2 separate regions of the Homo sapiens genome follow, and region 2 is linked to region 1. A link means that fine-mapping ties the variant in region 1 to the expression of a gene that starts in the linked region. Tissue or cell type: whole blood. Region 1 holds a variant in brackets; the other region holds the start of a gene. All regions are shown on one strand. Distances are between the middles of the regions. Region 1 overlaps TGFBR1 (transforming growth factor beta receptor 1). Region 2 holds the start of TGFBR1 (transforming growth factor beta receptor 1).

The links.
Region 2: it holds the start of TGFBR1, and the variant in region 1 is fine-mapped to the expression of TGFBR1 in whole blood (TOPMed, PIP above 0.99). The same link has a PIP of 0.9 or more in T cells, blood mononuclear cells and monocytes.

The regions. Positions count from the first base shown.
Region 1 is chr9:99,149,457-99,160,021 of GRCh38, reverse strand. TGFBR1 (transforming growth factor beta receptor 1) reads right to left here. Exons shown (of 9, transcript NM_004612.4): 9 at 5,830-10,565. Among named protein-coding and RNA genes, the nearest start is that of TGFBR1, 50 kb to the right of the region's middle. The variant G/A (reference allele first, on the strand shown) is at 6,417.
Region 2 is chr9:99,099,246-99,110,012 of GRCh38, reverse strand. TGFBR1 (transforming growth factor beta receptor 1) reads right to left here and starts at 4,900. Exons shown (of 9, transcript NM_004612.4): 1 at 4,711-4,900. The coding sequence starts at 4,807. RefSeq lists silencers at 4,173-4,682, 4,773-5,372.

The sequences.
Region 1 (10,565 bases):
TCTCTCAAGGGAAGAGAGGGAGAGCAAGAGTCCTAACTCCCTAAGGGGATTAAAACAGGAACGATGTGCAATGAAATGAGGTAAGTGATTTGGAAATGCAGCAGGGGATCAATGATTTGCCAGCAGGCAGGATGCGCAACAATAGTGGAGGAAATGCCTTCCGACCTGAGCCTTGGGGTTGATTCAAGTTAGCAAGGCAGAGGAGAGGGAAAAATGCAGTTCCAGCGAAGGGCGGAGCCTAGCAGAAAGGCAGGAAGCAGGGTGCGTCGGGACATGCAGCATGGCGGACAGATGAAGGAAGTATGGTGGGTGGCAAGAATGGTAAGGTGAGACCCGGTGCAGTGGCTCACGCCTGTAATCCCAGCACTTTGGGAGGCTGACGCGGACGGATCACCTGAGCTCAGGAGTTCGAGACTAGCCTGGGCTACACGCTGAAACCCCGTATCTACTAAAAAATACAAAAATTAGCCTGGGGTGCTGGCTGGTGCCTGTAGTCCCAGCTACTCGAGATGCTGATGGGCGAGAATCACTTGAACCCGGGAAAGTCGAGGTTGCCCGGAGCTGTGATCGCACCACTGCTCTCCAGCCTGGGTGACAGAGAGTCCCTGTTTAAAGAAAAAACAAAAAACAAACAACAACAACAAAAACTGGCAAAGGCGAGTTTTACTTTTTTTTCCTTTAACAGACGTATTGAGATATAGTTTACACACCATAAAATTTCCCCATTTCATGTGCACAATGTTTAGTAAATTTACGGAGTTCTGAATCCATCACCAAAATCAAGCTTTGAAACATTCTGTCACCAGTAGAAGGTCGTAACTGCAAGTTGTCCAGATTCCTGGCGTTTTGAACAGAGTTGAACAAAACGCCCAGCAAAGCAAAGAAAGAATGAAGCAACAAAAGAAGGAAAGCAGGGATGTATTGAAAACAAAAGTACACTCCACAGTGTGGGAGCAGCCTGAGCAGCTACTCAAGAGCCCCCAATACAGAATCTTCTTTGGTCCAAATACCCCCCAGAAGTTTCCCATTGGCCACTTCATGCATACTTCATGTAAATGAAGTGGTAGCCCTCAATCAGTCTGATTGGTTGCAGAAAGCAGCCAACCAGAGGCTGAAGTTACAAAGGTCACACTCCTGTGCAAACATCTGATTGGTAAAGGCAACCAATCAGAGGCTACGGTGAAGTTACAAAGTTATACTTCTGTGCAAATGAAGACTGACTAAGCCTGCAATCAGTCTGGTTGATTGTGGACGGCAACCATTCAGAGGCTGGAGCTAAGTCACAAAGTTGCAAACGAAGACTCCACTGGTACTCAGTCTGATTTGTTGCAGACAGATTTCCCATCTGCAGCCTCTGGTCCTTTTTTTACTTAGGCGTGGAAAGTTAGGGTTTTCCTTTCAATTTAGTTCTAGGAAGTCAGGGTGAAAGAGCCTTAGGTTCCCTGCCTCCAGACCCTATTCTCCTGCCTCAATTCCCATCATCCGAAAAAGCTCCCTTGTGCCTTTCTGCAACCTTTTCATCCCACTTCCTTCACTTAGCATGAGGGTTTTGAGGTCATCCACATTATAACAAGGATCAAGCAGTCTTATAAACCATGGTATAAATACCTTACCTCTTAAATATCAATTCACCAGATGATGGACATTTAGCTTGTTTCCATTTTTGACTATTAGGAATTATGCTGCTGTGAATATTCACCTACAGGTCTTTGTGTGGACATATGTTTTAATTTTTCTTGGATTAGAGTTGCCAGATTTAGCAAGTTAAAATACAGGAAGCCGAGTTAAATTTAAATGTCAGATAAACAATACTTTTTTTTAGTATAAACATGTTCCATGCAATATGTGGGACAAACTTATACTAAAAAATTGTTTTTATCTGACACACAAATTTAACTGAGCCTCCTGTATTTTATCTGGCACCTCTACTGATACCTAGAAATGATATTACTGGGTTACATAATAGGTTTCTATTTAACCTCTTAAGATACTGCAATCTGTTTTCCAAAGGGACTGTTTACATTCCAGCAATGTGTGAGATTCATCTTTTTCTCATCTTTATTGACACTTGGCTATCTGTCTTTTTAAAAACTATAATCATTTGAGTGTGTGAGGAGTGGTTTCTCATTGTGGTTTTAATTTCATCTAGTCTTTATAAAGAATTATGTTTATTAGCCATTCATATATCTTCTTGGGAAAATGTCAAATCTTTTGACCAGTTTTTATTTTTACTTTTTTTGTCACAGTCCTACACATAATTCATGGTATTTAGAGCTTCACTTTATCAACTGTTGCCGAATTACCATTTAAACATTAATACCCAAATACAGAATTTAGAATTAACTCTACCATACCCAATCTCTGAGCAATGAATTTGTTCACCAATTTTTAATTGGGCCATTTGTATTCTTATTGAATTGTAAGAGTTCTTTATATATTCTGAATACAAATCTCTTATCAGATGTATGATTTGCAAATACTTTATGCCAGTCTTTGGCTCATCTTTTCATTCTCTTGTTTTTTAAAGCCCCAAATATTTTAATTGTGGTGAAGTCCAATTTATCAACTGGTTTTTAATAAATTTTGCTTTTGAAGTCCTATTAAAATCTTTGCCTAACCTAACATCACAAAGATTTTCTCCTGTTTTCTTCTAGAAGTTGTATAGCTTTAGCTCTTACCTTTAGGTGCATAATGAGCTGAGGGTCTAATTAACTTTCTTCCTTTTTTCCTTCCTTTTAAAATACAGATATCCAATTGTCTCAGCACCATTTATTGAAATGACTGTCTTTTCTCCTGTTGAATTATCTTTGCACATATCTTGAAAGTCCGTTGGTCGTCTGTGAGGGCTTATTTCTGGACTCTTAATTCTGTCCTGTTGCTGTATATGACTGACTATCCTTGTGTCAATAAACAGTCTTGATTATTGTTGCTTTACAGTAAGTTTTGAAACTGGGTAAGGCAATTCCTCCAATTTTGTGCATTTCAAAATCATTTAGGATCTTTTAGACATTTTGCATTTCCATGTTAAGTTTTAGGATCAGCTTGTGAATTTAAAGAAAAACCTTTCTGGAATATCGCTAGGGATTGAGTTGAATCTATAGAACAATTTGGGGAGAATTGCCATCATAACACTGTTGAATTCTCTAATCCATGAGCATGGAAGTTCTCATTTAGATCCTTTGATTTCTCTCGGCAATATTTTTTCAATTAAATAAATGTATTATTATATTCTTTTTGACGCTATTCTGAGTTTACTTTTGAAGGTATCGTTCATTGCTAATATAATGTCAATTTTTAATATTGATTGTGTATCCTACAACCTTGCTTGCTGAATTAGGTCTTGTAGCTTCAAAAAAAAAATTTTTTCCGGTGGATTCTTTAGAATCTGACAGGTAATATTTCTTAATAAAGACAGTTTTACTTTTTTCCCCAACCTAATGTCTTTCTAGTCTTTTTGTAGGGAGAGGGAACAGGGACTGGACAGAACCTCCATGACAACATTGAATAGAAATGATGAAAGGATGTTCTCGACTTGTTTCTGATTTAAGGAGAAAAGTATTCTTTCACCATCAAGTATGTTGGCTGTGAGTTTTTTATCGATGCCCTTCACTAGGTTGAGGAAGTTGCCTTCTATTTCTAGTTTGCTGAGTTTTCATCACGAATGGGTGCTGAATTCTGTCAAATATTCTTTCCTTTGGCTATTTAGTTATTATAATAATATGGGTTTTATTGTTTCTTCTATTAGTATGGTATAATACATTGATTTTTTTGATGTTAAATGAAGCTTACAGTCCTAGGATATGGCCCATTTGGTCCTGGTGTATAAATCCTTTTATCTGTTGTTGGATTCAGTTTCCTAATATTGTGTTTTAAGTATTTTTGCAGCTATCCCCACTGGCTTTAATACTTCTAAAGTATAGGTATTTAAAAGTGTAAATTTCCCTTTAAACAGTGCATTAGCTGTACACTATAAATTTTGACATGCTGTACTTTTTCATTTGTTTAAAATTTTCTAACTTCCTTTGTGACTTCTTCAATACATGGGTTTTTTAGAAATGTGTGATTCAATTTCCGAATATTTTGGGATTTGCAATTTTCTGTTGACTTCTAATTTCAACATGGTTGGAGAACATACTTCCTACTATTTCATCCCTTTTAATTCACTGAGACTTCTTTTATGAAATAGCATGTGGTTTCCCCTGGAGAATGTTCCATGTGCACTAGCAAAGAGTGTGCATTCTGTTCGTGGTGGGTGGTGGTAAATGTTTGGACAATTTGGCTGACAGCATTCTTTTGTATGCCTGTGATTCTCAATTGAGTCATTCTATCAATTATTGTAGGTGTCAAAATCTCCAAATATTATTAAATTGTCCATTTCTCCTCTCAATTCTATCATTTTTCTCGTTATTTTGGGGTCCTGTTAGGTGCATATACATATGTTAACTGTTATATCTGATATATTGGCTTTTTAAAATATCCTATATTTCCAGTAATATTTGTCTTAAAGCCCACTGTACTGATATAGACATTCCAGCTCTCTTACGATTACTGTTTGCATGTTATATTTTTCCATACTTTCACTTTACAGCTATTGGTCTTTGAATCTACAGTGTGCCTCTGTGAACACCATATAGTTTTTTCTTTTTAAATCCATCCTGACCATCTCTACCTTTTAACTATTTAGTCCATTCACATTTAATGAAATTATTGGCATGATTACTTATGGCTGCCATTTTGCTATTTGTTTTCCAAATGTCTATCATTTTGCTTCTTTCTTTCTGCCTTTTGTGTTAAATATTTCTTGGTGTACCATTTTGTTTTTTTTAATTTATTTTTAAATTGATGCTTCAGTGGTTACTCCAGGCTCTACAGCATGCATTTCAATTTATTACAATCATCTTCAAATTAGGACTAATTAATTCTAATAAGATACATCTTTGTCCCAATAGAGTTCCATTTCCTACCCACTCCTTTGTTATTAATATACACTGCACCTATATTGTAAACCCAACAGTATGGTGATGTAATTACTATATAGTCTTATGCTACTGAAAGATAACTTACATTTATTTTGGTAGGCAAATTATTTCCCCAAGATTCCCATTCTCTAGTTATTTAATCAAATACTAATCTTGGTACTGCAGTGAATGCACTTTGCAGGTAAAACTGAGGTTACTAAATAGGGTAATTATCCTGGATTATCCAGATGGCCCCCTGAGTAATCACATGGCCCCTTAAAAGCAGAAGAGGGAAGCAGAAGCATTAGAGAGATGCAGTGGAAGAGACAGTGGAGAGATGAGGCAGAAGGGGAGATCCGAGAAAAGTGCAAGGATGATTCAACCCATTGCTGCTGGTTTTGATGATGGAGGAGGGAACCACGAGCCAAAGAATTTGAGTGGCTTCTAGAAACTGACAACCACCCCTGGCCAACCTGTCTTACAACCATATGGAGCTGAATTCTGCCAACAACCTCAATGAGCTTGGAAGCCTATTCATCCGAGCCTCCAGAAAAGAATGTTGCCCAGCCAATGCCTTCATTTTGACCTTTTAAAATATGGAGCAGAGAACCATCTGAGCTATGCCTAGACTTCTGAATTATGGAATTCTGAGATCATAAATAGGTGTTGCTTTAAGCCAGGGCATTTGTAGTAATTTATGGCAGCTATACAATCATACAGTCTTTGCTAGTTGTACATATATCCACCATTTCTGGTGCTCTTCATTTCATCCTGTGGATTCAGGTTACCATCTGGTGTCATTTATTTTCTGTGTGAAGGATTTAGTATTTCTTGTAAGGCAGACGTCCATAGGCAACAAATTGTCTTAGTATTTGTCTGGGAATGTCTTTAATTTCACTTTTTTTCCAACTTTCAACAAAAGCTTCATATCCTGGTGATGTCTTTGTTATAAGGAAAAAAAAAAATCCCTAAATCCAGCCTTCAAATTGAAGTAACTATCTTTAATGTGAGAGCAATCCTATTCACAAAGCCCCTCCCCAGAGTCAATCAAGGGTTTGGGGACCACATCTCATCATTTTTCCAGTTCTCTTGTAAGCCAAGTTTTCACCCCCAGGAGACTAACAAATGTGCTGACCCAAAGGCAACAGAGATCACCTGTAGACAGGTCCATCATGCCCCAATGGAAGACCCACACCCCTAAGCATGTGGAGAAAAGCCCCCAGGCACAGAGACACACCTGCAGACAGGAGGGCACTCCCCGAACACGCTATAATATTGTAACTTGCACTAGGCAGGGTTAGAAAACTTCTAAAGACTCTTGTAACTCAAAGGTTCTAGTTGCCATCTACAGCAACTACATATGGCATGACTCATTCCAACGTATACACTTTATTTTAAAATATGCCACTGGCACTTGGGAAAAATGTAATTTATTTGCACTGCTTCCATTCTTCTACT[G/A]TAGTGTTAGGACTTAACATAAGCATCACTCTTCTATTTCCTATTTACATTCTTTTGGAATATTACTACAAATACAATATACAATTTAAAAAAACTTATGGGGAAACACAGCTTATGTTTTTTTCTCCTCTTTACAGGCTTCTCAGTATCATTCGACTTCAATGGAAATTTATATGGACATTTTCTGTACATATCTTAAAAGGCAGAGATTACACTGATAAAGCCTAAAGAATCCTGCACAAATACAATACAGAAAACAGAAAGTACAGACGATGTTATTTGGGGTACAAATATAAACAATACAGTACCATTTGAGTAACTGAGCAACATAATACCCATACTTTATAGAAATAAAACTGCAAACCTGGAGAATGCTCTGACAAATATTAAACATTATATACACAATGAGGTAAATGTACCTTGGTCTCTTGAGAGGTAATTTAAGTTTAAAGCAATTGACATTTTGAAGCATCTCCTTAACATATGAAGAAATATCAAACACCCTATTCCGTTGGCACAACGTGAAAAAGGGGTATCAAAACATGGTTCATGATATTCAGTTCACAAATCTTGTTAAAAAATAAAAACAAATTCACTGAAGTTCCTTTTAAGTTGTAATAAACAGGTTGAATGTTATTAACCATATTTTTAGAAGTTTACATTTACAAACAAGATTGCATAATGGGATTGAAAAGTTTAATGTACTGACAATCATCTTAATGTCCTAGAAGTCCAGCACTCTTGAGAGGGCCCATGGGTATTCCAGTAATCCAAAACAGAGACAAGAAGCTGCAGTACATGTCCAAAGATAATCCTTAGTATCTCAAAATATCTGAGCTGGCATTTTCTGCCAAAGTGTTAACAGAACCATTATTTGGAATCACTACCATTTGGAGCCAGAACACTGCCATGGTCAAGAAACAGTTGACTTACGATTCTTCCAGTGCAAGAATAAAAATAAGCTTTTGATGATGTGTCTAATGGGATAGTGATTTTGTTGTGCACTCTAACGATCTCTTTGCCATCTTGTTTTAATCTGACAGTTCTCAGACATAGAGAAAAAAGGTAACTCATGCATGTACTACAAAATCGCCAAGTGACCACTTACATTTTGTAATAAAACCTGAAATCTGGGATTCTTGATGGCCATGGCACTGTACACCAACTCAAGGCACTTCTTGAGCACTATCATTATTACAGCAGAATTACAGGCTCAGCTCTTCAGACCTTACCCTGTCTTATAGGCGATACAACTGGCCACTGTTTCTGGCACAACTCCACTGCCACAGGAGCCACCTTGCTGCCATCCCACTCCTCATCCATGGCTGAAGTCAAAGCAGGGGCATCCCAAGCCTCATCTGCTCAATCTCCAAACTTGGAGACCCCTCCCTTCCACCTCTAATGACTGAAGGAAATGGAAGTGGGTCCCACAACTTCCATCAGCCGTTTTACTCTAGGTCTCCAGAGCAGCCTTCAGTCAAACGGCTGTGGGGGAGGCAACGGTCTCTGCGTCAGGGACCAGCAAGCAGGAGAGCAGGTTCCAAGAAACAGCTGGAGACAGAAAGGATGGACCAGGGATGTCTATGCCTCACTAAGTCGTATTTCCCCCATCCCCATTTCTCCTGGCTACTGACAAAATGAATATGGACGCACAATTTACCAGAAGATGTTTTAGCCACGTTGAATCTTGGAAGGTGAGCATCCTAGGATGGGCAGTATAAACAACTGTGTTTTTAAATGACAAAATTATTACTCTAATCAAATTTATCTGCAGTTATCGACAGTAATCATGATCCATCCCACCTTTTAAGTTTCTTTCATTTTCAATATCAGCCAATTGTGGTTTATCAAACCATCCCTAGCCAAAAAAGGAATTAACTGCAGTAATACGTAAAGTCAATTTAGAACTAAACTCCAACTTTAAAAAAATTCCCTGATTCATCAAAAGTACATTTTATCCACTTAGGTAAGAAAAGTATAATTGTAACTCAATCTTTGATTCAATAAAAAATATCTTCAGCAAAAGTGGATAACCTTACATGAAAGTGAGAAATCATGTATTACAACTTTAAATCAGACAACTTTTGGTATATTCTTAAAATTATATAAAAATAGTTTTAGTGATAAAATGCATTGGTCCCCTGGATTTCATAAAGCAGATCTGGTAGGCTTAGAAATGGCCCAAAAACAACAACAAAAAAAAAAAAACAAAAAAAAAACCCCCACAAAAAAAGTACCTGATCACAGAATTAGAGATTATTATTAAACAAGTAATACAACACAACTATAAAAACAAACCTCTCAAACTCATTCATTTGCTTCAATGAAATTATGGTAACTACAGAAAAAAACTCAACTTTGTAGTCAAAATAGTAACCTCTAAGCATTTTTCCCATGATGTTTTTAAACACATGAAATTGACACTAAATTCCTATGTAATATGTCACTCATTCTAAAATTACTTTGGTTTTAAGATCAAATAGTCTTTCAAATTTATTCTACGTATAAGAGATAAGACATTATCAGAATGCAACTCATTCAGTGTAAATGGCCACTTTCTCTTCCTGACCAAAATACTGTATGGGTTACTCTGACCCTGTATCGGGGAACTGATAGCACTATAAAGTCGAAGTCTTGCCTCAGAGCTATGATAGTTTTTTCTCCCCTCAGAATAAGATCACAGTGATAAAAGGACTTCGAAAACTGTAAAAGCCCTGCAGAGACTTCATAGCATTGGAAGTAAAAACCAGTTATTATAAGCTAGTTTCAACTTAATGTAAGAAGACCATGACAAGTTTGCTTTCAATATTTGACCAAAGACATCTGTAAATGGAGAAAAACCTATACTCAGAATGTTCTTTAGCTACCACCTCTCCCAAGTAACAAGGGTGCACTGAATGCATTACATAAATTACATGTAAGCAGTTGCAATGTACGCACACATAAGGAAACACTGAATTAAAAGCTGCCTTCCTCAAAGTGTAGTGAGACCTCAAAACCACACTAGCTCTAACCTCAGTTACAAAGACAGAGGATCCACCGAACGTTTACTCCTACATACATAACAAATGTGACTTTCTTGCACATCTGTTATCTATTCAAATTATTAACTACCTTCGCCTTCCTAGAAAAAGGCCTATTATTTAATATTAACCATATTCTAATTTTAAATGTAATTCATGTCTTAAAAAATAAGTCTTTGAACAGATAAAGAAAAAAATGGCTTACAGAATACCACATAACTTTTCACAAGCAGCTAGACAGACTTTCCCTTTTAGAAAAATTAGTCTGTATGCTACAAATATTAAAGTACTATAAGCATCTAGAGTGCCACTTGATTTTTTAAAAGTATACTTAGACAACACAATTAAAATGCAAAAGCTTGATGTGAGAATATTCAAACATGACCATGCTAATAATTTACTAATTAATGCCACTTCATTTCTTTAGTGGCTTAAGCACATTTTGGTAGGAGAAAGGCATTTTCAGAATAGAATACCAAATGACATACCACAAAAACCCTTCCAAAAACAAAACAGAAAAAGTTTGGGTTACCCAGATAAATAAGCTTTTTGAATTCAAACACTATAGGTTTTAACATAGAGACTTTCAGCAATTCTACTCATTTCCATTAGAAAGACACAGAAGTGGCACTTACTGGTATAGTACAATCCCATTTTGAAGGCATGTAATGTTCTGAATAAGTGAAAGAACAATAATAGTATACAAAATACAATTGCATGAATTATGTTCCTCACTACTATATGAGGTCATTTTTAGACTCAAGATAAGAGTTTTATAAGTGTTAGTTTTAAGATCCTGAAAAACTATAGAACAGTACATTCAAAGTCTGAATCAAGGAAACTCTAGTGGTTCAGAATCCTCTGAGAATGTACTAACCAGGAGTAAATCACTTTCTTTAGTAATAAGACATGTTTCATTGTAATTCAGCAATCCAACTCCTTTGCCCTTAAAGATGATCTCCAGCACAGCAGAGTTACCTAAAGTTAAGACCAGCAATCATCTTTTTAAAAAACAAGTTTTGTTAATAAAAAATAAAGGTAGACTACACATTTTCTGTCCTGGGAAAGAAGCGTTCATAGTGCACAGAAAGGACCCACATGGCTGTTTCCTGGGTCCAAAGAAATC
Region 2 (10,767 bases), 50 kb after region 1:
TTCAGAGTGGTAAACAATTTTAATGTTTATGGAGACTGCCTGGATTTGACATTGAGAAAATTCAGCTAAGAATGGCATTAAATGTAATCCTAAGTATTGGAGTTAGGCTGGGTCAAAACTGACCATAAATTCTGAGAAGACTCCAAAACTTTTCCTCAAGCTAGTTCTATGGGACAAAGCATTAAAAAATCCCTGAGAAATATGCCAGCATCTGCCCTCAATTCCAAAAGCAGGAAGCAAAGATGTGACCCAATCACATGATATCAAACCACAGTCCATCTGTTCAGAGAACTCTGTGTTACGTAAGCCATGACCAAGGAAGAACTGCAAAAGGCAAGAGGTGTGTCGACATTTGCAAGGGGCTCTGTGGTTTGAAGAGACACGTTCTCACATCAGAAGGGCCATCCATAGGATAATGGCATTTTCAAAATTCCATTTATTACACATGAACATATTTGGTGCAATAAAATGACACTACAAGAATGGTGTTGAGTCCCTGTAACTGCTCAACTAAGGCCTAGAACCTTTTGACAGGGGTCTTCCCTACATGAGCGGCCCTCCTCACAGGAACAAGATTTATCTTCCTCTTGATTATTTTTATGTCAATTCCTCTCTTAATTTCAACAACAAAGCGGATCATCTAATATTCTAAACCAAAGCCTTCTAACTACACCCCAATTCAATTAACTGTACTTACTCAAGACCATCTTCCAAACTACTATAGGCCTACTTTTCTCAATCAATAAGTATATACCAGGTCCTTTTATCAGCAATTAAAAAAAAATTGACCTTTTCCTTGAGAACTTTAAGGCTTTAATCATTCCCCCTCCCTTCCACCTTTAGAATTCACTTTTCATAAATTCTGTGAAGTTCAAGGCCTACTTCACTTAAGGAAGTCACTCATCCCTTCGTGGATGCCAACCACCTATCCCAACCCTGTCCCACTCCCACCTCCAAGTCCTTCACATTTTAAAGCACCATATAGGGCACAAGATATGGAATCAGAAAATCAAAGTTCCTGTCTCTGTTCTGCCCCTGTGCCACCCTAAGAAATTCACCTGAGTCGTTTTTTCATCTGTAAATTGAAGTGATAATATACTTAGGACTTCCACCATTTGAATGCCTAGTCCTACTGGGCATCCCATAATGTTATTCTCCCTCACTCATTCCACTTTGATTACTTTTATGTTTTGTTTCCAGCTATGTACTATAGCTTTTAGGATTGGGGAAAAAATGATAGAGGTTAATACATCCAAATTCCACAGTACAGAATAAGGAACCTAACTCTGAAGAGTAACTTGCCAGTCAGTCAGTAAAAGCCTTGTTTCCTCCCTTGGAGTAGGCCCCAGGACAGTTGGGGACACAACTTCAAAAGAACTTTCACACTCATCAAATCCCCCTCTGAATTCTACCCACCCTTCAAAGTCAGTGTAAGTCCTAAAGTGTCCAAGAAGCCTCCCCCAATCATTCCAGCTTACACTAATCATTTCCCTTTTTGAATACTAATGCCTCCCTATAGAAATGATATTAAAAATATTTAACAACTGGCACTACAAGGGTACCAACCAATCAGAAAGGATGTTTAACCAAAACACACATGGCCCAGTGGGAACTGCTTATTGAACATCAGTCCTGCTCTTTAGCAACAACACAGAATAGCAACCTCAAACTCAAATACCACTTTCTCATGTGATCTTCACAATCTCATGAATTAGGCAAAAGTAGGTATTGCCCCATTTTCTGCATAACTGCTGGTGAAGGTAGGACAAATAACCAATTGCTTTCAACACGCCATACAACTTTTCCTGATTATTTATACGGAATTACAAGTTAATATTGCATAAACTGGACTTACATAAAACAGTATAAATATTAAAGGAATGCTCAAATAGAAATCAACAAGCATTTATGTGGAATAGAATATAAAACACAGTGCTAAGTTCTGAGGCCACAAAAGAAAGAAATGGCATGAATCTTGTCCTCTGGGTACCTATAACGCATTCAAGTAGAGTTAAGTAGCAGCACAGGCAGTAGAAATGGACAACACAAACTGTTAAGTGTTGCAGAGTTCTGGAAGACAAAGAATTCAAGAACTAAACCAGCACAGGAAGTCAGGGCTGAGAACTTCTCGCACTCCCAAAAAAAGGGGCAAAACTAAATGTGTAGTGAAAAGGCTGAACAGTCAGGAGTCAGTGAGAAAGAGAAATTGCTCGAAGGTCTGCAGTAATGAGAAATGAGATCCCTGGTAGGATACTCAGAGATGGCCCCAATCATAAGCTGCTAAGTGTTGTTCTAAGTGCTGAATACAAATGGGAAATCTTATAAACCTTCACGGGGAAGGCTGAGGAAGATTAGTTTGGCAGTAGCCATAGAAAAGCCTAGATGAGAAAAACATGGGAAAGCAACTAGATTTGGAGGATAACAGGCAGGATTAAGCTGAAGGCTGCATACCAAGAAAGGAGGAGACATTCAAGAGGCATTCATAGAAGAGTTGGATTGGGGGCACGTTTTCAAAGAAAAAAAGTTATGAAATGGCAGAAAGGAAGCAAATAGCATTCTCAGATGGGATATACATATAGACATAGTGGTACTAAACTGTGCACTAGGGATAAGGAATCAATTTCCCTAGAGAAACCTATGTTGGAGACAGAAGTTGGGCAGAGAACATTAAAACATACTCAGAACATAAAAAGGTGCAAGTCTTTAAAAGGGAAGCCAAGTTACAGAGGAAATAAAAAGCATTTGACCTTTTTCAGAATGTTTTTTAAGGGTGGACTGAGGCATCATCATAACCAACAGGGGAGGCAGACAAGCTGAGGCAGTCTGGGCTTAGAGTAATAAGCACCTGGACAGCTTTGTATTTTGTGCATACCATGGAGACTGTAAACTCCTCCAGGACATGGACTGAGCAATGTTCTGTGTCTTCAACTAAGTCCACTACTGTTACTTGAATACATGAACGCTTCTTGTGCTACTTCTGGTGGAAAAGAGTGCACTGTGTTATTCAAGTTAATAGCGGTGTGGAAATGTTACCTGTGTTTCATGCCTAACTATACTGATTCTCCCAAATGTCCACACAGTTATCCTGCCTTCCTCCCTAGGCCAATGTCAAAAATCCATTGTTTCCTCTAATGCAGGCCCACGTGAAGGGACTCAACAATGTGCTAAGAGTCGGAATGAAGCCTATCTGATACTCAAATCATGAGGACAGAATCCAAAGTGGATAATAAAGACCAATTGCTCATCAGACGACTGAAGAAGAAAAATGGGCTACGCCAGATAGTATGATGTATACATATTTATATATATATATGACATACAGGTTTGGGAAACTGAGATCTGAGTGAAAATCCTAGCTTTAGCACTTAAGTTATTGGGTACTTAACGTGTCTGTACCCCACTTTGCACATCTGTAAAGTGGGGCAAATGCCACTACTCCTGGGAGTTTACTTGTGGTGATTAAATAATGTAATTATACAATAGTGTATGCATTTACATCGTAGTAATGCACAATACATAGACGGTAGCTATTAGGACTGATTATAATCGTCACCGTCAGTCTTGATTTTTTAAAAAAATTTCAACATCTTTTGTCCAGTTTCAGAAACAGAAATGTACTTTCACTGCATTTTAGTTGCTAACACTGAGGCTGTGTATTTTAGCTTCTAGTGTCTCAGTTCAGCTGCTAACGAAGTTTTTCACTCATCCCTTTGTGGATACCAACCACCTACCCCAACCTGATTTACTATTTTGAAAAATCCAGCCAACAGTCTTCCTTGAAAACCAGCTATACAGATGTCTGAATCAAACTATTAACTGTCACTCAAGAAAAGGAACAACGTGAGTGATGTTCCTTCGAGGAAATAAAAAGCGTTTAATCAATTCACAGTCGTTCCCAAAATTTCCAAAACCCGCAGAATGAGCAAACGTTCAAGTTTCCACTATGAAAACAATCCGTAGCCGTCTGGTTACTGGACTCACTTCAACACTCCCCAGACGCACGAAAGAAGAAACATTCCGCGCATCTCCGCGCTTCCTTCTTCTCACACAAAGCCCCCCTGGCTGGAGGAGCAGCCCCTTCCAGCAGGGTCGGCTCGGGTCGAGCCGGGCGGGAGTCAGGGCGGCCTGCGGACCCAGGGGTCTCACCACACGTCGCCCCCGACTCCCACTGGACGAAGCCCTAGAGGCTCGGAGCTCACACCCCGCCCGGGAGCCGCCTTCCACCCCAACCTCAAACCCCGCCCCGGGTTCGGCAGCCTCTGGCACGGACCCTCTTGGGGCGGGGGTCCCCAGAACAAGGTCACGCCGTGCCCAGGGGGCGGCGGCGGGCAGCCACGGCTCTGCCAGTCCCCGCCGGCCTCGCACTCTCCGCCCCTGGCCCTCGCCCACTCACACCCCAGAGGGCAGCCCCGGACCTCGGACGACTCCGCCCGACTCCACCTCCCCGGGGAGTCCCGAGCGGGGCGGCCTCGGGCAGCCGGACACGTCCGCCCGCGCCCGGACACACGCCCCTGCCCCGCCTCCGCTCCCCGCTTGCGGTTCGCCCGGCAGCCGCCGAGCCGCGCGGCGCCACGAGAGCCCGGCCCGGGCCCCGGCGCCGCCACCTGCGCCCCCGGCCCCGCGCCATGTTTGAGAAAGAGCAGGAGCGAGCCAGAGGCCGGGTCCGGCCCGCGCGCCCCGCAGTCGCCCGCCCGCCGCGCCGCCGCTCACCCGTCGCCCCCGGGAGCAGCGCCGCCGCCGCCGCCGCCGCCGCCGCCAGCACGAGGAGGAGCAGCCGGGGACGCGGAGCAGCGACCGCCGCCTCCATGGTCCCGCCGCCACCGCCTGTGGCCCGGCCCGGCCCGGCCGCGCCGCTGCCTCACCCCAGCAAACCTCGCCTCGCCCCACCTCCCTAGCCGCCGCGGCGGCCTCGCTCCGGCCCTTTGTAACTGCTCGGAGGACGCGCGTCCATTGGCTGCCGGGCTCCCGCCGGCCCCGCCTCCCCGCCGCCGCGAGCTGCCAAGCGGGACCCAGCCGGGAGCCCCGCCTGCGGGCCCGCCAGGCAGCCAATCCGCAGCCGCGAGCGCCGGTTTCTGGCCACGCCCCACGCTCCCCGGGGGCTGGGCCGCCAGACCCCAGCCCCGGCCCGATCGGCTCCCGGCTCCGAGAGGCCGCGTGGGGGCGGGGTCTGCCAGCCCCAGCACCGCTCAGCCGCTAGCCCCGGAGGGCCGGGTAGAGCGATGGGTGTGTCTGTGTGAGTCTCTTTCGGAAAAAGGCTGTGGCCGTTCGACGCTCTTTTCTTCTAACCTCCTCTAGGCGCGGAAGATCTGGTACTGCCTCAGCCCCACCCTGACCCCATTCACAGCTCCGCATTGGCAATCCCAGCACATGCCACCCAGATCCGCTGCAGCGCCAGGCCCCTGCATCCACTTCAACTTCCCCTCTCCAAGTCCACGCATCAACTTCAGCATTCCCCCGAAGATCCCTCCTCAGTGCCCTTCACATGCGACTCACTCTCCTATTTCCTCCTGCTCCCAGCGGTCACCCCAAACCCAGCTCCCCCACCCAGTTCCAAACCCAGAAAGTCCTCAGATCCCAGCGTCAGACCCAGATCCTGAGCCCAAACACACCCCCAAATAGCCTCCCGCCTCCCTCCAGCACAGATCCAGGATGGGGATCCAAGCCGCACTCCTCTCAAACCCCTTCCCGATCCAGGTTGGAAAGGGAGGATCCCCACCCCAACCCCTCAAAGGAGGGGTTCCCCCTTCTTAGCACCCAGCTCCCGCGGGGCGGAGGGGGAGCAGTCATCATTACTTTGAGCTGTGTCTGACACTGCTGTATAATAATCCTGAGGTGTCACTAAAAACCCAAATAAACTCTACGTTTTCATTCTGAATTCCTAATTTACTGCGAGACGCTCCACCCACCTTCCCTCTGCGACGCCAAAATGAGCTCCAGATTTGTAATTCTTCCTGTCAGACTAGTCCTTTCTTCAGACACAAACACAGCCAAGGAGGCTGTTACGTAGAACAGAGAATATTTTTCCGCAGAACCTTTTAAGGAGGAAATTTTATTTTCTGTGTCATTTGAGCTTAGAATTAAATAAACCTTGATAGCAGGAATCAGAATGGTTCTGATTAATGCCAATTTGTGCACTACTTTAGAGTCACTGGGTGAGCATTTTCCCCACCTGTGAAGGCTTCCTTCCGGGAGATGAAAAGGGAAAAGGCGTGGATATTGGAGCTGGGATCTGAGACCCGCGCGCTTTCTCCCTCCTGTCTAGGACACTTACTTAAGCAAGTCAGCTAACCTTTCTGAACCTCCAACAGGCTCAGAGGCCTGCAACTTGCTCTACACCGCAGCTCCAGCAGCCTCAGCAGCAAACTCCCCTCTTGCTCAGGCTGAGGGATTCCAGAGAGATGGCTTCTGGCAGGCTCCAGTCCCAATTTGCCCTCTCAGTTCCAGTTTCTTCAATGGAGATTTGGTGGACTTTGTGCCACCTGAGGTCCCTAGACTGCCTTTTTGCTGCTCTATTTGCAATGTCTTTCATAAGATAAGAGCTAATGAGATTTTTATTGTATGAATGAATGAATGATCTCAGAAAGTGACTGTTTTTCTCTGGCCATTAGCTTCTTCATCTCTAAAATGTAAATAATAATAGTACCTACCCCGTTTATAAATAAAAGGGATTGAATCACTTGTCTTGGGCCCCTTAAATGACGTAATGTGTCTGGTACAGTGTCTGGAACATAGTAAATATTTAGCTAATGCCATTTCTTTGCCCATCCCCTTCCAGCTCTGTATGATTCTAATCAGCATGTATGTTCATGTCAGTCTGTGCCTTTGACGTACGGAGCCTAGATTAATCAGTGTTAATCACACCTCCAGTTCCTTAACATTTTCCGTGGAATTCAGTGGATACAATAGGAAGGAAAAACAGACTATTTTTAAGTTGTATCTTCCTGATACTAGGAGGAAATTTCCATGAGCCACAGATCCATAAATAAACTACACTAGAATGGAACACTAAATTATTAGTTTAAAATCATGGTTCCCAAATTGTAAAGTCTCTCCAATTACCTGGAGAGCTTGTAATAATACAGATTCCTGGGTCTCCCTCGGCCCTAGCAAGTCTGCTTCAGTTCATGTGGAGAAGGTTCAGGAATCTGCATTTGTAATAGACATCCCAGGTGATTCTGCTGCAAGTGGCACTGGGCCCGCTTCAAAAGACACTGCTTTACTTAAAATTCAGTAAATAAAAATGCATGACCTTATTTGCCTTTTGAGAAAGGTTGGATGGGCAGTAGAAAGAAGCCTCTGGCTTTGGAGGCCTACAGACCCGACTTGAAATTCTGGCTGCCACTCACTAGATGTGGGTCTGGGAACACTATTTGACTGCTTTGAGATTTAGCATCCCCCAGGGTAAAGGGAGATACTGTTGTGAGGTCTAAATGAGCTATTGCACATTAAGGAATCTGTCATAAATGTTAATTCCCTTCAGTCTTTACAGACTTACTTGTTGTTTAAAATGCTTACATGTTATTTACTCCAATGTCTTAATTTAAAGGGAAGGAAACTGAGGATCAGTTCCCCAGCAAGTCAGCTGCAGAGCTAGGACTAGGAGTCTCACTCCAGTGCCTTGTACCCTGTGTAATGTTGTCTCTTAATCTTTATGCCAAGGACATTGTTTGCTTTTCCTTTTGGATTAGTTCCTTAAGTAAGAGGATTTCTCCAAAATAGAGAGCAGAGACTGCTTGTCATCTAAACTACACCCATTCTTACATTTGCTTTATAATGGAGTCCTGTTTTTCTTTGGGAAAGCAGATCACCTAGAAAAAATATATATGTCAATTTCCCAGGCTCCTTGTACCTAGGTATGGCCATGTGACAAGAGTTCTGGCCAGTGACATGTAAACAGAAATCTACTTTCCACAAGGCGGAGCCTGTACAAAAGATACTTCCTAGTTAAAAAAAGAAGAGACTCATCATATTCTCTCTTTCTCCCTGGAACACAGTTGCAATGCCTGGAGGTACAGCAGCCATTTTGTAAACATAAAGGCGATAGCCAAAACTGAGGACTGTAGAGAGAAAAAATGGAGAGAGTCTAGGTTTTTGATAAATTTCCTGAACAGTTGCACCAGCTCTATAATGCCTATTTCTTATTATATGAGAAAAATTAATCTATTTTTTATTCACTTTGAATAACTGCACCAGCTCCATAATGCTTATTTCTTATTATATGAGAAAAATTAATCTATTTTTATTCACCTTAGAATGCTTCTATTCTGCTCATTTGTCCATCCTATTTATTGTTGCATATTTTATTTCTATCTTATTTTCTAACCTACAAGACATTATTGACTTCTGCCATTATTAGCTATTGCTAATTCTTGGTGCTCCTAACTGAAAAACAAACCACCTCAAAATTTAGTGGCTTAGAATAATAACCATATATCATCTTTCATGAGACTGTAGGACAGTTTTTCAGGTTTAGGCCAATTTATGCTGATTTCCACTGAGCTCACTTATGAGTCGGTTGTCAGGTGGAAGGGGGTGGAAGAGGGTAATGAGCTAGATCAGCTCCTCCATGTGGATTTTCATCCTCCAGCAGGCTAGCCTAGGCTTGATAACATGACATTCATTATCCAAGATAATGAATGAAAGCGTGCAAGAGCCTTGAGTCTAGGTTTAGAACTGGCACCGGCCAGGCATGGTGGCCCATGCCTGTAATCCCAGCGCTTTGGGAGGCCAAGATGGGGCGATGGCTTGAGCCCAGGAGTTTGAGGCCAGCCTGGTTAACATGGCAAAACCACTTATCTACAAAAAATACAAAAATTAGCCAGGCATAGTGGTTCACACCTGTAGTCTCAGCTACTCAGGAAGCTGAGAGGTTGGAGGATCGCTTGAGCCCAGAAAGTCAACGCTGCAGTGAGCCATGATTACACCACTGCACTCCAGCCTGGGTGACAAGAGTGAAACCCTGTCTCAAAAACAAAACAAAACAAAAAAACATCCACTGGCACAACATCACTTCTACCATATCCCATTGGTTTGGGCATGAACTGGGGCTGAGCCCAAATTCAAAGGGTGGGGAAAAAGACTCCATTTTTTTTGATAAAAAGGAACTGCAAAATCACATTGCAAAGAGGCAAGGATATCAAGAGAAAATAAGTGTGTACATGTTTACGAACACTTTTTTTTCCACCCCCATGACTCATACACCTTCTGCTAGGCCCACCTCCAACATTGGAGGTCACATTTCTTTCTTTCTTTCTTTCTTTTTAAATTATACTTTAAGTTCTGGAGTACATGGGCAGAACATGCAGGTTTGTTACATAGGTATACACGTGCTATGGTGGTTTGCTGCATCCATCAACCCATCATCTACATTAGGTATTTCTCCTAATGCTATCCCTCCCCTAGCTCCCCACCCCCGACAGGCCCCTGTGTGTGATGTTCCCCTCCCTGTGTCCCTGTGTTCTCATTGTTCAGGTCCCATTTATGAGTGAGAACATATGATGTTTGGTTTTCTGTTCTTGTGTTAGTTGCTGAGAATGATGGTTTTCAGTGTCATCCATGTCCCTGCAAAGGACATGAACTCATCCTTTTTTATGGCTGCATAGTATTCCATGGTGTATATGTGCCACATTTTCTTTATCCAATCTATCATTGGTGGGCATTTGGGTTGGTTCCAAGTCTTTGCTATTGTGAGCAGTGCCACAATAAACATACAGGTGCATGTGTCTTTATAGTAGAATGATTTATAATCCTTTGGGTATATACCCTATAATGGGATTGCTGGGTCAAATGGTATTTCTAATTCTAGATCCTTGAGGAATCGCCACACACACATTGTGTCTTCCACAATGGTTGAACTAATTTACACTCCCACCAACAGTGTAAAAGCATTCCTTTTTCTCCACATCCTCTCCAGCATCTGTTGTTTCCTGACTTTTTAATGATCGCCATTCTAACTGGCATGAGATGGTATCTCATTGTGGTATCTCACCAGTGATGATAAGCTTTTTTTCACACGTACAAACACTTTTTAACCACTTTCTCTGATCTTCGTTTTTCTTTTTACCTCTCAGACTTTCTACTTCAAATCACTGTTATTATTCCTGAAGTTTATATTTTAAAATTTCTTTTAGTGAGAGTCTACCAGTGGCAAATAATCTTAGTTGTTGTTCGACTGAAAATGTTTTTATTTAACCCTCATTTTTCAACAATGTTTTCACTGAACATAGCATTCTAGGTTGATAATTGTTTTCTCTCCACAATTGAACGTATCATTTCACTGTCTCTGCCTTCCATTGTTGTTTATGTGAAATTAGATGGTAGTCTAATGGTTTCTCCTTTGTAAGTAATCTGTCTTTTTTGTCTTTTTTTTATAAACTTCATTTTTTAGAGCAGTTTTAGGTTCACAGCAAAATTGATGTGAAATTACATAGTTCTCATGTATTCCCTGACTTCACCCACACTCACAGCCTCTCCCACTGTCAATGCCTCCTACCAGAGAGGTACGTTTGTTACAGTCAATGAACCTACGCTGTCACATCATTACCACCCAAAGTCAGTAGTTCACCTTTGTATTCACTGTTATTGTCTATGTGTTTTGATGAATATACAGTGAGAGTATCATGCAGAATATTTTCACTGCCCCACCCTCAATCACAAAGATTTCCTCCTATATGTCCTTCTTCTAGTTATTTTATAGTTTTACCTTCTTCATCTAAGTCTTTAAGCTATCTTGAATTAAATCTTACGTATGACGTGAGGTGTGAATCA